Regions from separate parts of the Homo sapiens genome. Here region 2 is linked to region 1. The links come from fine-mapping of genetic effects on gene expression. Tissue or cell type: whole blood. Region 1 holds a variant in brackets; the other region holds the start of a gene. All regions are shown on one strand. Distances are between the middles of the regions.

Region 1 (8,103 bases):
TGTGTTTTTAGTAGAGATGGGGTTTCACCATGTTGGCCAGGCTGGTCTCAAACTCCTGACCTCAAGTGATCCACCTGCTTTGGCCTCCCCAAAGTGTGGGATTACAGGCATGAGCCACTGTGCCCGGCTCTCATGGGTCATTCTTATGCAGCCATTTGGAGGTCAGCAATCTCTGATTTGGGGGTATTTTAGAATTCAGGAGAGAGGTGTGAACACCTGAATAATTGATTGGAAATGTTTATACTGTTTCTGATAAACCCATTTTCATTTTCAATCACCGTCTACTGGCTGCCGTCTGTGTGTATACTGGGAGACGCACACTGTAGCCCAACATTGGCTGGAAGTGTCTCCTCACACACTATGCTCCTCTCCACAGTGTCCTGGCTGAGCGACTGGAGAAGTGGCTGCAACTGATGCTGATGTGGCACCCCCGACAGAGGGGCACGGATCCCACGTATGGGCCCAATGGCTGCTTCAAGGCCCTGGATGACATCTTAAACTTAAAGGTGAGTGTGGAGCCAAGTTAGCCCTGAGGCAAAAGCTGGGGTCCCCAGTGGAACATGCAGTTCTTAGGACAGAGCAGGGGATGGGGCCAGCTGACCTAGTGAGGAAATTTAGGCTCCTGCATCAGTCTTTCTGCATAAGTAAAGAAAGGACAGTTGTGCTAATTGACATTGGCTATGAGGTCATAGCCACAGACAGGATTATGAAAGATGCAAATATGCGAAACATGGCACATGACCTCCCTCCCTCAAGCTAGGCCCTTGCTTTGTGTGGTTGGGAAATGTTGGGAGTAGCAGAGAGAGGACCTAGGCAAATAGATGGGCATTTCCTTGAAGAAATCGGTTTTCCAGTAACATCTGGGTTGTGTTGCAGCTGGTTCATATCTTGAACATGGTCACGGGCACCATCCACACCTACCCTGTGACAGAGGATGAGAGTCTGCAGAGCTTGAAGGCCAGAATCCAACAGGACACGGGCATCCCAGAGGAGGACCAGGAGCTGCTGCAGGAAGCGGGCCTGGCGTTGATCCCCGATAAGCCTGCCACTCAGTGTATTTCAGACGGCAAGGTGAGCCCTGGCTTCGTACACACCATCCTGTTTACCTTGGCTGTGCCTCCTGGGAAACTCAACACACTTTCAGATTTCAATTCTGCTTTGTCATGTAGTCTGTTAATCACACAGTGCGGATACCTGGCTGGTTTTTAAGTTGGAGTATGGTGTCCTCTGTGTGGCCTGATAGGAAACACAAATCTCCTTGCTGGACTTGTTACTTCCAAACCCTCCAAGACCGGTCTCTTGCCTTTATTGCAAAAAATGATGCTATAACACTCGAATCTCTCAAGTTGCCTGCTTGGCCCTCTTCCAAGTGTACTAAAAAAAAAAAAAAAAAGGATGCTGCACTTTCTTGAGTCAACTGAAAGTATTTATGATGGCCTCTGTGTACAGAACTGGGTTAGGCACCTGTGTTAACTATAGCTGTGTAAGACATGACCTCTGCTCAAAAAGACCTTCTCAGCTGACTTGTGGAGCTAAAGTTATCATATGAGAAATAATCATTGCATAGGGAAGTATATAGTGAATTTCTGAACTTCCCAGGGAAGACAGAGAGTAAAATAGAATGTAATACGTTTGTAAATAAAGAGTGTGTTCAGACAGTAAGTGTGGCTGGAAACGTTAAACACTTCATGGATGCTTCCTACTTGCTGGCTGAAGATGATGCTCTTGCTGAACAGTGGGGAAAGCTGTGGAACTTCTTCATTATCAGTTAGAAAAGAGAGGGTTGGATCCACAAGATTCATTTTGTCCTTGTCCCTTTGCAGTTAAATGAGGGCCACACATTGGACATGGATCTTGTTTTTCTCTTTGACAACAGTAAAATCACCTATGAGACTCAGATCTCCCCACGGCCCCAACCTGAAAGTGTCAGCTGTATCCGTAAGAATTTGTTATGTTTTGTTTTTCTAAATAATCCGTTATAATATGTGGGACAAGGCAGGGAAGGGAGACTGGACTAAGGAAGGGGGAGCCACGTAAAGGAAATTAATATCGCCAGTCCTCAGGGCAGCCTTCCTTATTTAGGACATGCAAGGAGTAGCCAGGCAAGAGAGAGTACAGGAAACCATTAGTTAATTTCAACCTCCTAGGACGGGCGTGGTGGCTCACACCTGTAATCCCAGCACTTTGGGAGGCTGAGGCAGGAGGATCACTTGAGCCCAGGAGTTCAAGACCAGCCTGGGTAATATAGTAAGCTCGCAAGTCTACTAAAAATTTAGAAATTAGCCAGATGTGGTGGTGCATGCCTGTAGTCCAGCTATTCAGGAGGCTGAGGCAGAAGGATCACTTGAGCCTGAGAGTTCAAGGCTGCAGTGAGTCATGATCACCCCCACTGCATGCCAGCCTGGGTGACAAGAGCGAGACCTTGTCTCAAAAAAAAAAAAAAAATTCTGTTGAAAATATATGGCCCTATATACATATGTGTCCAATGGTTCGTAAAGTGTTCCTTCAAATCAACAGCTACTTATTGACCACTGGTACATGCTGTTGGTACAAATACATGTATGTGACAGTAACCAGGCATAACACCCTCCAAAGTTACATGATCCTATAGTAGGTACAAAACGTGAAAGTGCCAGTAGTGTCGAAGGCAGGATATGGTTAATTGTAGGAGAGTTATTGTGGTTATTCTTTGACAATTGCTTGTGTCTCTGTCTCCAGTTCAAGAGCCCAAGAGGAATCTCGCCTTCTTCCAGCTGAGGAAGGTGTGGGGCCAGGTCTGGCACAGCATCCAGACCCTGAAGGAAGATTGCAACCGGCTGCAGCAGGGACAGCGAGCCGCCATGTAGCGTGCCAGGCTTTTTTTTTAAACTTAATTTATTTAAAATTCCTTGGTGGCTTTGGCCACAGGGAGGTGGTTGAGGCAGGGACCCAGAAGCAACCGTTATGAGCAACAAAAGGAAGACACTGGTTTGGATGGACGGGAAGCGGTTGGGTGGGCTGGACTGACGGAGGCCCCTTTAGACCTGGCGAGGTGAGTGTGGTTGGCACAGGGTGAGGAGTGTGGAACTGAAGCTGGGCTGGCCAAGCTGTGGCTGGTTTGGGAACCCAGAGGAGCTCACTACCATGTGGATTAGCAAAACTCCCCTGACCGTGCTGCTGGGGACTTACGGACTCTTTCCTCATTGTGACTCGTTTGCCAACATTATTGGCCTTTTGTGTCTTCCTTTGCCTGATGTCAAGTTTAGTGCAGAACCTCAGGCATTGCTGAGGGCTAGGAAATTGTCCTTGGGTTATAAGTGGCTGCTATAATAATAGTGATGATGATAATAATTATAGCAGGGACCTCCCTTGACATTTGAGGGGGTTTTGTTATTGTACAGGAAATGGAATTTGGATCCCAGAGATGCTCCAAGACTGTTCCTTGTGGTCCCTGCAGGATGAATCTCCTCCGAAACAACAGCTGCCTCTCCAAAATGAAGAATTCCATGGCTTCCATGTCTCAGCAGCTCAAGGCCAAGTTGGATTTCTTCAAAACCAGCATCCAGATTGACCTGGAGAAGTACAGCGAGCAAACCGAGTTTGGGATCAGTGAGTGTGCACTTTGCAATGAGTTTAAAGACACCATTTTTTTTTCTTTTTCTCTTTCTAAGGTTTCTTTTGTCCTATTATAATTGAGTTGCTTATTTCTGTTTCAGTTTTGTGGTGTTTTTATTTTGTTTTGTTTTGTTTTTCCTTCTCAATTTTTTTTCAGCATCAGATAAACTGCTGCTGGCCTGGAGGGAAATGGAGCAGGCTGTGGAGCTCTGTGGGCGGGTAGGAGACTCATTTTGGGTTTCGGAACTTACCAAGGGGGTGAGATTTTGTGCTCCCACTTTTCACTTTCTCATCAAACACTGGGTCGATCTCTGTCAAAAATCAGGTGTTCCTCACCATGCTTTGAGCTTAACTGGACCAGCTGAAAAGAGGCCAAGAGAGTAGCCAGTGAAGGGAGCCCCTCTGTGGCCAGATGCAAGAGCTGCATGAATGGACAGAGATGGTCCAGGTTTAAATAAGAAGCAAGGGTTAGGTTCCCTTGGGGAAAAGCCAAGACCATTTCCTGTTAGGAAGGGCATTGGATGGATGATCAACACTCCCTCTTGTCGAAGGTTTTTGACTAATTTTGTTGGGATGCTAAATCCATAGGAAATAAAAGGTCTAGGCAGAAAGTCTCAGGGCAGCGTAAATCAGATGTCACCAAAAAAAGTTAATTATGAAGGCAAAGGAAATACATGTGACTTAATGAACCTCACACAAACTGAAGGTTGAAGTCAGGCTCCGGGGCTTTTTCCTGGACTTATCCTCTGTTTTCCCCTGTGTACTTGGGCAAGGATCTTCACCTGTGTCTTAGTATCGATTTTTATGAATCAGTACTGATGGAGTATATGTGTGTTTAATGGTGAATATTAACCATAGAAGGGCTGAGTGCTCCTCCCCATCTTGGGACTCATAATCTGTGAAATAAAACAGTCTGGGCCTCCCTGCCCGGGTAGCATCAGGATAGACAGATGAAGAGAAGAGAAAGTAATGTGTCTTGGGCATCTTCTGTATGCCAGGCACCATGCCAGAGGCTTTAAGTACTTCATCTTACTTGACTCCTCAGATGGCCCTGTTAGAAGCCTATTTTATGCAAAAGGAAACTGTAGCTGGGGGTAAGTAACTTGCCAAGGGGTCACACAGCTAGAAAGCGGTGGACCCTAGATGCAGGCGCAGCCATTCAGACCCCACAGTCCACATTCCTTT[G/C]AGCCAGTCCATTGAGGGTCCTCAGGGAATGTGGCGGGTCCCCTGGTCTCGCTCCCCCGCAGATCTTGCATCTCAGCATGCGCCTACCACATCAGTTGACATTAGCACAGCTTTTCCATTAGGAGAACGAAGTGAAACTCCTGGTAGAACGGATGATGGCTCTGCAGACCGACATTGTGGACTTACAGAGGAGCCCCATGGGCCGGAAGCAGGGGGGAACGCTGGACGACCTGTGAGTACTGGCTGGGGGGCCCCTCTGTGCCCAGCACACACAGACAGCCCTGGAGCTTCGGTGTGTGTGTCAAGGGCACCCTCAGTGGCTGTGCGGGACCATTCTCTAGAGCATGCTTCCCTGTGGGGTCACTTCCAGCAAATCATCACTGAGCTTCAGTTTCCAAATCTGTTCAGTGACAAGAAAAACAGTCTTAAGTCACGAAGTTGTAAGGATGAATTCAGATAATGCATTTGAGACGCAGGCCATAATCTGTAAAGGCTGTAAAATGCAAGCAGCCTCTACCCCTGTAGCAGACTCCCCTGATTTGTTCCACCCACCCTGACTCAGGCATAGCTCAGAGCAGAAAGTAAAACAGAGAAGGAAGAACCTGATGAGGCTTAGGAGTTTGGACCTGGAAACTATTCGTTTGAGTCTTTGTCAGGTATTTGGCATTGGCTCCATGAGGGGCGGAGGGGTCTAGGCAGATCACTCCTACCTGAAGGAGATCACATGTGCTCCTGGCGTACAGATGGAGGGAACCAGGCAGGCCGCTTGAGGGCTGTGTCACCGTGAGCTCAGCAGTGTTCCCTGATTCTCTCACTAGGATTCTTAGGACAGGAGCTCCAAATGTCAGAACTTTGATTCTGTATTTTCTCTAATTAACCCTTTATTCTCCTCTAGTTCTTTTATTTGTATTTGTATTATTTTTTTAAGAGACAGGGTCTTGCCCTGTTGCCAATGCTGGAGTGCAGTGGCACAATCATAGCTCACTGCAGCCTCGACCTCCCAGGCTTATGCAGTCCTCCCATCTCAGCCTCCCAAGTAACCGGGACTACAGGCGCATGCCACCATGCTCAGCTAATTTAAAAAAAAAATGTTTTTGGCTGGGCACAGTGGATCACATCTGTAATCCCAGCACCTTGGGATGCCAAGGCAAGAAGATTGCTTGTGAGCCCAGAAGTTCGAGACCAGCCTGGGCAACATGGTGAAACTCTACCTCTACCAAAAAAATGTAAAAATTAGCCATATTTGACCTCAAGTCTAGACAGAACTTCTTTGTATATTTTAGAGAGGAGCAAGCAAGGGAGCTGTACAGGAGACTAAGGGAAAAACCTCGAGGTAAGTGGGGTTCTGTGTCTGCCTTGGGCTTCTCCTTATCTCATTTATGGGGCATCACTACTCTCTGCTGGCTTCCTTGAGGAACTATGCTACCCTCCCTCTCTCCAGACCAGCGAACTGAGGGTGACAGTCAGGAAATGGTACGGCTGCTGCTTCAGGCAATTCAGAGCTTCGAGAAGAAAGTGCGAGTGATCTATACGCAGCTCAGGTATGAGCCCCGACCTTCCTGCTCTGGAGGAAGGACTGGGAGATGCAGGTATGAGGTCACCTTCCTCCCTCCTCTCTGATTCGCTGGACCTCATGAAGAGAGTTTCTGCAGCTGCTGACTGGATGCACAGCTGCCACAGGTTCTGCTTTCTCCAGCCCAAATGCCATTAGTTTGCCATGTTTATTCTTTGCAGTAAAACTGTGGTTTGCAAGCAGAAGGCGCTGGAACTGTTGCCCAAGGTGGAAGAGGTGGTGAGCTTAATGAATGAGGATGAGAAGACTGTTGTCCGGCTGCAGGAGAAGCGGCAGAAGGAGCTCTGGAATCTCCTGAAGATTGCTTGTGTGAGTGAGTGCTGTGGTCCCGGGCCCTTGGCCTAGCAGCCTCCTGTGCCTTTCCACCTCTGTGCACTGCCGCCATCCCACACGGGACACCACAGAGCCACCAGCAGCCCACTCAGCTGCTGCTCGGGCTTCACGTCGCTGTTCTTTGACTTGGTGTAAGCGGGGAGGTCAGAGGAAGGGCCTGTGCTAATTGTTTTCATTCATCTGTGTATTACTTTCGTGTGGCTACTGTAAAGATTAGCACAAACTGAGGGGCTAAAACAACAGAAATTTGGGCTAGGCATGGTGACTCATGCCTGTAACGCCAGCAATTTGGGGAGGCTGAGGTGGGAGGATTGCTTGAGCCCAGGAGTTCAAGACTGCAGTGAGCTGTGATCATGCCACTGCACTCCAACCTGGGCAGCAGAGCTGTCTCTACTAAAAACAAAAACAAACGTGTTATCTGAGCTCTAGAGCCCAGGAGTTGAAAGTCCCGTGTCAGCAGGGCTGAGCTCCCTCTGAGGGCTCTTGGGGAGGGACTGTCCTTGCTTCTTCCAGCTCCTGGTGGTTCCAGGCGTTCTTTGGTGTGTGACTCCAGTCTCTGTCTCTGTCTTCATGGGACCCCTGTGTCCCTTATCTGGGTGACTCTTACAAGAACACTTGTCATTGGATTTGAGTCCCACCCAAGTAGTCCAGGGTGATGTCATCTCAGGTTCTCTAAAGACGCTTTCTCCAAGTACGGTCACACTCACAGGCTCCAGGAGTTGGGATGTGGGCATATCCTTCTTAGGGCCACCAATTCAGCCCACCGTCATGCACGGCAGTGCAACTTGGTTGACCATCGTCTGCGTCTGCACTGCCCTCAGTGCAGTAAGCCACGCTTTCTGTGCACACCGTCTTAACGTAGCTGTGAGTCCATGGGATGCCACATGGTGGGGAAATGGGAAACAAAACAGCCAAGAACTGAGACGGGCAGGCCTGGCCGTGTTGTGGGAGCCAGAGCTGTTGGGACTGCAAGCCCCATTGTGAAAGGCTGCAGAGAAGGTGACATGGATGAAAGAGTGATTTAGGTGTCAGTTTCCCTTAAGAGCAAAGGGAAGGAGAGAGGGAGATGGTTGCTCATGGTGGAAGCAGGAGATGGTGCATTAGGAGATTCTCATTGTCAAAGGCAGAGGGGACAATCCACACACAGTGCAGAGAACAGAGGGGCTGGGGTCGCATGCCAGAGCACTGAGCATGCCTTGGGAGCGTGATTGACACATCCTCCTGTAAGAAGAGAGGAACGGGAGAAAACAGGATGACGAGGTAGAGAGGATCTGAAGAGGAGAGGGAGGTGCAGGTATGCGCAGGTGATAGCCTGATGTGCCATCTACATCCATTGAGCATTTACTGAATGCTAACTATATGCCCAGCAAGACACACAGGTGAGAAGGCATGGCACCTGTTCCCAGGAGGGCCTGATC
Region 2 (8,103 bases), 49 kb before region 1:
TTGAACCAGAGCAACTCCATCTTGAATAGGAGCTGGGTAAAATGAGGCTGAGACCTACTGGGCTGCATTCCCAGATGGTTAAGGCATTCTAAGTCACAGAACGAGACAGGAGGTCTGCACAAGATATAGGTCATAAAGACCCTGCAGATAAAACAGGTTTCGGTAAAGAAGCCGGCTCTAACCCACCAAAACCAAGATGGCCACGAGAGTGACATCTGGTCGTCCTCACTGTTATACTCCCACCAGCACCATGACAGTTTACAAATGCCATGGCAACATCAGGAAGTTACCCTATTTGGTCTAAAAAAGGGAGGCATGAATAACCCACCCCTTGTTTAGCATAAATAAATAAACATAAAAATGGGCAACCAGTAGCCCTCGGGGGCTGCTCTGTCTAAGGAGTAGCCGTTCTGTTATTCCTTTACCTTCTTTTTTTGTTTGTTTTTTTTTTGTTTTTTTTTTTTTTGAGGTGGAGTCTCGCTCTGTCGCCCAGGTTGGAGTACACTGGCGCGATCTTGGCTCACTGCAAGATCCATCCACCTCCTGGGTTCACACCATTCTCCTGCCTCAGCCTCCTGAGTAGCTGGGACTACAGGCGCCCGCCACCATGCCTGGCTAATTTTTTGTATTTTTAGTAGAGACGGGGTTTCACCGTGTTAGCCAGGATGGTCTCCATCTCCTGACCTCGTGATCCACCTGCCTCCCAAAGTGCTGGGATTACAGGAGTGAGCCACCATGCCTGGCCCCTACTTTCTTAATAAACTTGCTTTCACTTTACTGACTCGCCCTGAATTCTTTCTTGCGCGAGATCCAAGAACCCTCTCTTGGGGTCTGGATCGGGACCCCTTTCCTATAACGGTACTGTACTGTGGTACTAATTACTGCAGAACAAATCCGTGTGTGATTTTATATTGCCTGGCCTTTGTCTGTCCTTACTTCATGGCTCCCTGTGGGTCTTAAAAACCCAGTAAGATTCTAAGTGCCTCTGATGAGATCTCATTCCATTGCTTGGATCCCCTGGGTCAGTAATGCCCTGGGCTGAGCTAGGCACTCTGGCTGGTCAGTATTTCTTGATTTCCCTATAGCACAGCTAAAAAGCACACTCAGCCTCAAAGCAGGAAGAAAAGGGGACATTTTTCTGCTGAATCTGAAAATATCTTTTGTAAACAGTCTGCTCATATCTCCAGAGCAGGACAGAAACCAGATGCAGGCAGAGATAGCTAAACATGTCTTATCTGGATAGAAAATTGAGCTTAAGATAATAAATATCTTGGAATATGATAAAACCCAGAGGCCCCTTCCTGGTCCATGATTAATTGAAGAAAAAAAAAGCCTAGTAATACGTGACCTTATCAGAGAGATTTATGTTCAGTTGAAAGCCAAGTTATTTTGAGCTGAGCAAAATGAGGATTCAAATTACAGGAGCGCAGAGTAAACTTTTGGCATATTAGCGGACATCTTGGTAAGTTTCTCAGGACAGTGTTTTTCAGAGATGACAGGATTAAAGAGAAACCTTTTATGACATTGTACTGGAAATGGACTCTCCACAGTGCCCAGCACATATAGGTGCTCAATAATTTTTTTTTTTTTTTTTTTTTTTAGATGGAGTTTTGCTCTTGTCGCCCAGGCTGGAGTGCAATGGCACGATCTCGGCTCACTGCAACCTCTGCCTCCTGGGTTCAAGCGATTCTCCTGCCTCAGCCTCCCGAGTAGCTTGGATTACAGGCACGTGCCACCACGCCCAGCTAATTTTTTTGTATTTTTAGTAGAGATGGCGTTTCACCATATTGGCCAGGATGGTCTTGATCTCCTGACCTCGTGATCTGCCCGCCTTGGCCTCCCAAAGTGCTGGCATTACAGGTGTAAGCCACTGTGCCTGGCCTAATTTTTGTATTTTTAGTAGAGACGGGGTTTCACTATGTTGGCCAGGCTAGTCTTGAACTCCTGACCTCAAGTGATCTGCCTGCCTCGGCCTTCCAAAGTGCTGAGATTACAGGGGTGAGCCACCACACCCGGCCAAATTTTTTTTTTTGAGATGGAGTCTCGCTCTGTCGCCCACGTTGTAGTGCACTGGTGCGATCTCCACTCACTGCAACCTCCAGCTCCTGGGTTCAAGTGATTCTCCTGCCTCAGCCTCCCAAGTAGCTGGGATTATAGGCACCTGCCACCACGCCCAGCTAATTTTTGTATTTTTCGTAGAGACGTGGTTTCACCATGTTGGCCAGGCTGGTCTCAAATTCCTGACCTCAAGTGATCTGCCTACCTTGGCCTCCCAAAGTGCTGGGATTACAGGCATGAGCCACCTCACCTGGCCAATAAATATTTTATTTAAAAAATTTACTTATTAAGCAAACACTTATATTGCACTTAGACAATGCAGTCACTATTCTACGTGTGTTACAACTATTTACTCATGTTCCTGTTGCTTCTGGCCTTGAGGCTGAGCTTGCCATTTAGCTGGGAGTAATCAAGAAATACCAGGCCAGAAGCGGTGGCTCACACCTGTAATCCCAGCACTTAGGGAGGCCAAGGCGGGAGGATTGCTTTGAGGCCAGGAGTTCAAGCCAAGTCTGAGCAACATAGTGAGACCCCCATGTCAACAAAATAAAATTTAAAAATTAGCTGGTCATGGTGGCACGTGCCTGTAATCTCAGCTAGTGGGGAGGCTGAGGCGGGAGGACCCCTTGAACCCAGGAGGTCAAGACTGCAGTGAGCCGTGATCCTGCCACTATACTCCAAAGTGGGCGATAGAGAAAGGCCCTGTCAAGAAAGAAAAAAGAAAGAAAAGGAAAGAAAAGGAAAGGAAAGGAAGAAAGGAAAGGAAAGGAAGAAAGAAAGGAAAGAAAAAAAAGAAAGCTAGCAGCTGGGAAGGGAAGGGGAGGGGAAGCGAGGGGAGGGGAGGGGAGGGGAGGGGAGGGGAGGAAAAGGAAAGGAAAGAAGGAAAGAAGGAAGGAAGGAGGAGAGATAGGAAGGAAGGAAAAGAAGGAAAAGAAAGAAACCAAGTAGCCGGGAAGGGAAGGGAAGGGGAGGGGAGTGGAGGGGAGGGGAGGAGAGGGGAGGGGGAAGGAAGGAAGGAAAAGAGAGAGAGAGAGAAAGAAAAAGAGAAAGGAGAGGGAAGAGGGGAGAGGGGAGAAACCGAGCAGCCAGCGTGCCTAGCACAGCCCTGGACACCATTGACCCCTATGTTTGGGTTGAGATCTGTCCCTGAGTTAACTTCAACCCCAGGGCTGTCAGGCACTGCTGCTATCAATACCTCATTTGTCCCTCACAACAACTCTGGGGTGGCCTCCTTTCTATGACTTTCTATGAGCCCGCCTGTCCCCCTGCTATTACAATGAAGCAGATGAAACTGCTGATCTTTGTTACTGATGTTTTGGCTGTTTTCAATTTCCAAAAAATGACAATTAAATGCAATTCAACCTAATATTGCCTAAATTTTAAAAGAGGAAATAGGTTCTCACAGTGTTTAAGTAACCAGCCCCCGTGCCTCAGAGGTAGTCAACAGCAGTATCTGGATTCAAAATCCAGTTTGCCTCCTTCTGAACTTCTTAACATGCTACTTTTAGCCACGGATTAAGAACCCGGGAACCAGTTGCTAGGGTTTGAGTATCAGCTCATCTACGTAGCAGCCATGTACCTTGGAAATAATAATAATGCAGACCAGGTGCAGTGGCTCACAGCCTGTAATCTCAACACTTTGGGAAGCCCAGGCGGGTGGATCCCTTGAGCCCAGGAGTTGGAGACCAGCCTGGGCAACACAGTGAGTGAGACCCCGCCACCAGGTATGGCGGCCGCGCACCTGTAGTCAGGAGAATCACTTGAGCCCAGGAGTTGGAGGTTGCACTGAGCTGTGATCACACCACTGCACTCCAGCCTGGGTGACAGAGCGAGATAATAATAATAATGATGATGATGATGCAGTATTTTCCAATTTACAGGGTTGCCCTGAGGATTGAATAAGGAAATCTAAGTACAGAGATTTAGAACAGAGCCCTGCACTGTGTAAGCACTCTATAGATGTGAGCTATTATTATCATCTTCAGGTTCCTTTGGTAGTTTTTTTCTGCTTGAATAAAATATAGCAACACACACACACACCTCCTTTGTCCACTAATGTAATCCCATAAAACGGAGAAACTCAGCAGTGAGGACATTCTGATTCCAAGCAGGAAGGAGATGAACGATGAACCTCAGGCTGAGCGCCTCACGGTTTCCTCATGTCACCGGGGCTGGGGGTGCAGTTTGGCTTCACACTGCTAGGTCTTTTCTTGTTTTTAAGGGGGCAGGGGCTGTCACCTCTGAGGAGTCAGCTGTGATTGATCCTTCTCCACACCCAGCCAAGCACCCCCCAGACAGGGGAGCGCCCGCAGTAGGGCGGTAGGCAAGGGCAGTTCTAGCCAACAGTCCCTAAATCATCCCAGCGGGGGCGCGGGAAATTCCACCGAGGTGAAAGCCTAGGGGGCCGGGTGAAGAAATCCCCATACCCGGGCCCAGAAACCGCTCCAGGTGGAAGTAACTTGTCTAAAGAGAACAGGGTGTAACGGGGGTCATTTCAGGGCTGTTCTTTTAAATCGGTGAGCACGGTCTGTCTACTTTCCCTCAGTTGTCTAGAGACCACACGCCACCCCCGCCCCGGGGGAGTCGCCCGGTCGAGGGTCCCGGGACAGGCGCAGCACTCGCAGCATCCGGACCTGGTCTGCCTCGCGCCGGGAGCGGCCTCTTTAAGAGCGGCCGCGGCCAACGTGCTCCGTGACGTCAGAGCAGGAAGTGTTTGAGGAAGTCGCGCCGCGCTGCCCGCGTTAAGATTCCCGCATTTTAATGTTTTCAGGGGGGTGTCATAGCCCCGGGTTTGGCCGCCCCAGCCCCGCCTTCCCCGCCCCGGGGAGCCCGCCCCCTGCCCCGCGTCCCTGCCGACAGGTGAGTCCCCCTCGTGGGTGCGGCCCGGGTGCCACCTGCAGGCCCCGCCGCCCCGCTGCCTGCAAGGCCCGGAAGACCCCTCTGTGCCGCTGGGAAGTCGCAGCTTGCGGACTGGGGAGCGTTTCACTTGTGCGGGTTGGAGTTCGGGAAGCCGGGAGAAACAGCTCTCCCTGGGGTGGCTTCTTGGGGGTGGGTGGCTTTGAGGGGAACCTGCGATTTATGGGAACATTGTAAAGAAACACGTGACCTCGGCGATGCTCAGAAGTAGGTTCTGCCCCTGCCACCTCGGGCAGAAGGCGGGCAGGCCCGGGCGCCCCTGGTGGAGTCAGCTGGGGATCCCCTCGCTAGGGCAAGGGCGTGGGCATCGCCTCCCTCGGTGACTTTCTTCCTTGCCTGATGCCACAGCAACCGGATGGGGGAGGGTGAGAGGGACAAAAGTTTGCCACAAAGTTTGGACCAACCAAACACATTGGTTTCTTTACAAAATAAAAAACCAGTTGTATTTTTCTTCTCTCCCATTCAAGAGCAGTGGTATCTCTTGCCTTCTCCATCCCTTTGAGCTCCATTTTTTTCTTAATCCTAACCTTTTTTCCCCATCCCAAATTGCTTATAGAGTTAGCACGACATCAGTATGAGCTGGTCACCTTCCCTGACAACGCAGACATGTGGGGCCTGGGAAATGAAAGAGCGCCTTGGGACAGGGGGATTTGGAAATGTCATCCGATGGCACAATCAGGTAGGCCCTCTGTGCAGCTTGGGGAGGGGCGGGGAGCCAGGCCCCCTCCTCACTGCCTCCACTTTCTCTGATCCTGCTGGGCCAAGGGCTCACCTTTGGCTTTGGTCATCTTGGGACAGTGAATAGGGGGACTGGGAAGAGGGCTTCAGGACTTCTGAGCTGACTCCAGGTTAGTGGTCTCCATGCTTTATTGACTATGTCACCTAAATAAATAGTAAAATAAAGTTAAGCTCTTAGTCTCTATTATATATATATGGTAACAGTAGAATATCATGTACTAATATATACTGATATTATATGTTATAAAACATATAGAAATAGGAAAATTTAAAGGATGAGACTAAATAAATAATTTAAAATATTTTAATTCCTTGAGGCCAGTAGTTCAAGAGCAGCCTGGGCAACATAGCAAGACCTCGTCTCTACAAAAAAGGTTTAAAAATTAGGCAGCCAGCTGGGCGTGGTGGCTTATACCTGTAATCTCAGCACTTTGGGAGGCTGAGGCAGGCGGATCACGCAGTCAGGAGATGGAGACCATCCTGGCTAACACTGTGAAACCCCATCTCTACTAAAAATACAAAGAATTAGCCAGGCTTGGTGGCACGTGCCTGTAGTCCCCAGCTACTTGGGAGGCTGAGGCAGGAGAATCGCTTGAACCCATGAGGCGGAGGTTGCAGTGAGCCAAGATTGCGCTACTGCACTCCAGCCTGGGTAACAGAGTGAGACTCCGTCTCAAAAAAAAAAAAAAAAAAAAAACCTTAGGCAGCCTTGGTGCGTACCTGTAGTCCCACTACATTGGAGGCTGATGTGGGAGGATTGCTTGTCCAGGAGTTTGAGGCTGTAGTGAGCTATGATTGTGCCACTGCACTCTAGCCTAGGTGACAGAGTGAGACCTTGTTTCAAAACCATTTTTTAAAAATTATTTTAAATGTCGGGTGCAGTGGCTTACACCTGTAATCCCAGCACTTTGGGAGGCCGAGGCAGGAGGATCACTTGAGGTCAGGAGTTTGAGACCAGCCTGGCCAACATGGTGAAACCTCATCTCTACTAAAAATACAAAATTAGCTGGTGTGGTGGTGCATGCCTGTAACTTCAGCTACTCAGGAGGCTGAGGCAGGAGAATCGCTTGAACCCAGGAGGCAGAGGTTGCAGTGAGCCGAGATAGTGTCACTGCATTCCAGCCTGGGTGACAGAATGAGACCCTGTCTCAAAAAATATATATATATATATATATTTAAAATATTTGCTAATTATGATGTCTTCCCAGTATTGCTTGCGATACTGCACGGCAAAAAATAAGCAGATCCACATGAAAGTGAGAATTCATTTAGAATGATGATGAAAATCCATATTTCAAATAATTAACATTTTTTTAAATTTTGTAGAGATGGGGTCTTGCTATGTTGCCCAGGCTTGTCTCAAACTCTCATCCTCAAGCAGTCTTCCCGTCTTTGCCTCCCAAAATGTTTGGATTACAGGCCTGAGCCATGGGACCTGGCCTCAGCTGAGGTTTTTTTTTTATTTTTTGTAGTGATGGTGGTCTCACAATGTTGTCCAGGCTCGTCTAGAACTCTTGGCCTCAAGTGATCTTCCTGCCTTGGCCTCTCAAAGTGCTGGGATTACAGCCATGAGTCATTGAACCTGGCCTGTTTTTATTTTTAATTGACACATAATAATTGTACATATTTATGGGGTACAGTGTGATATTTTGATACATAATGTGTAATGATCAAATCGGGGTAATTGGCGTGTTCATCACTTGAAACACGTATCCTTTTTGTTGGAAACAGTCAAAATTCTTTCTTCTGGCTATTTTGAAATATACAATATTTTTTTTTTTCCGGAGACAGAGTCTCGCACTGTTGCCCAGGCTGGAGTGCAGTGGTGTGATCTTGGCTCACTGCAACCTCCGCCTCTTGAGTTCAAGTGATTCTCCTGCCTCAGCCTCCTGAGTACCTGGAATTACAGGTGTGCACCACCATGCCAGCTAATTTTTGTATTTTTAGTAGAAATGGGGTTTCACCATGTAGGCCATGCCGGTCTCAAACTCCTGACCTCAGGTGATCTGCCCACCTCAGCCACCCAAAGTGCTTGGATTACAAGCGTGAGCCACTACGTCCGGCCTGAAATATACAATAAAGTTTTATTCACTGTAGTCACCCTGTTGTTCTTTAGAATACTGTAACTTATTCCACCTAACCGTAATTTTGTACCCATTAACCAGTCTCTCCCTATTTCCCTCCACAACTCCCCCCACCCCCACCACCCTTTCCTGCCTCTGGTGACCACTATTCTACTTTCTACTTCTGCGAGATTAGTTTGTTGTTGTTGTTGTTGTTGTTTTGAGACGGAGTTTTGCTCTTGTCGCCCAGGCTGGAGTGCAGTGGCGCGATCTTGGCTCACTGCAACCTCTGCCTCCCAGGTTCAAGTGATTCTCCTGCCCCAGCCTC

The links. PIP is the estimated chance that this variant, and not a neighbour inherited with it, causes the effect.
Region 2: it holds the start of IKBKB, and the variant in region 1 is fine-mapped to the expression of IKBKB in whole blood (TOPMed, PIP above 0.99).

The regions. Positions count from the first base shown.
Region 1 is chr8:42,315,834-42,323,936 of GRCh38, forward strand. IKBKB (inhibitor of nuclear factor kappa B kinase subunit beta) reads left to right here. Exons shown (of 22, transcript NM_001556.3): 10 at 377-506; 11 at 877-1,071; 12 at 1,824-1,938; 13 at 2,719-2,842; 14 at 3,437-3,588; 15 at 3,752-3,813; 16 at 4,902-5,011; 17 at 6,063-6,112; 18 at 6,221-6,320; 19 at 6,514-6,661. Among named protein-coding and RNA genes, the nearest start is that of POLB, 19 kb to the right of the region's middle. RefSeq lists enhancers at 6,104-6,605, 6,606-7,105. The variant G/C (reference allele first, on the strand shown) is at 4,780.
Region 2 is chr8:42,266,553-42,274,655 of GRCh38, forward strand. IKBKB (inhibitor of nuclear factor kappa B kinase subunit beta) reads left to right here and starts at 4,750. Exons shown (of 22, transcript NM_001556.3): 1 at 4,750-4,917; 2 at 5,531-5,653. The coding sequence starts at 5,549. It overlaps IKBKB-DT (IKBKB divergent transcript), which reads right to left and starts at 4,698. Exons shown (of 4, transcript NR_185843.2): 1 at 4,099-4,698. RefSeq lists an enhancer at 3,745-4,244 and a silencer at 4,741-5,030.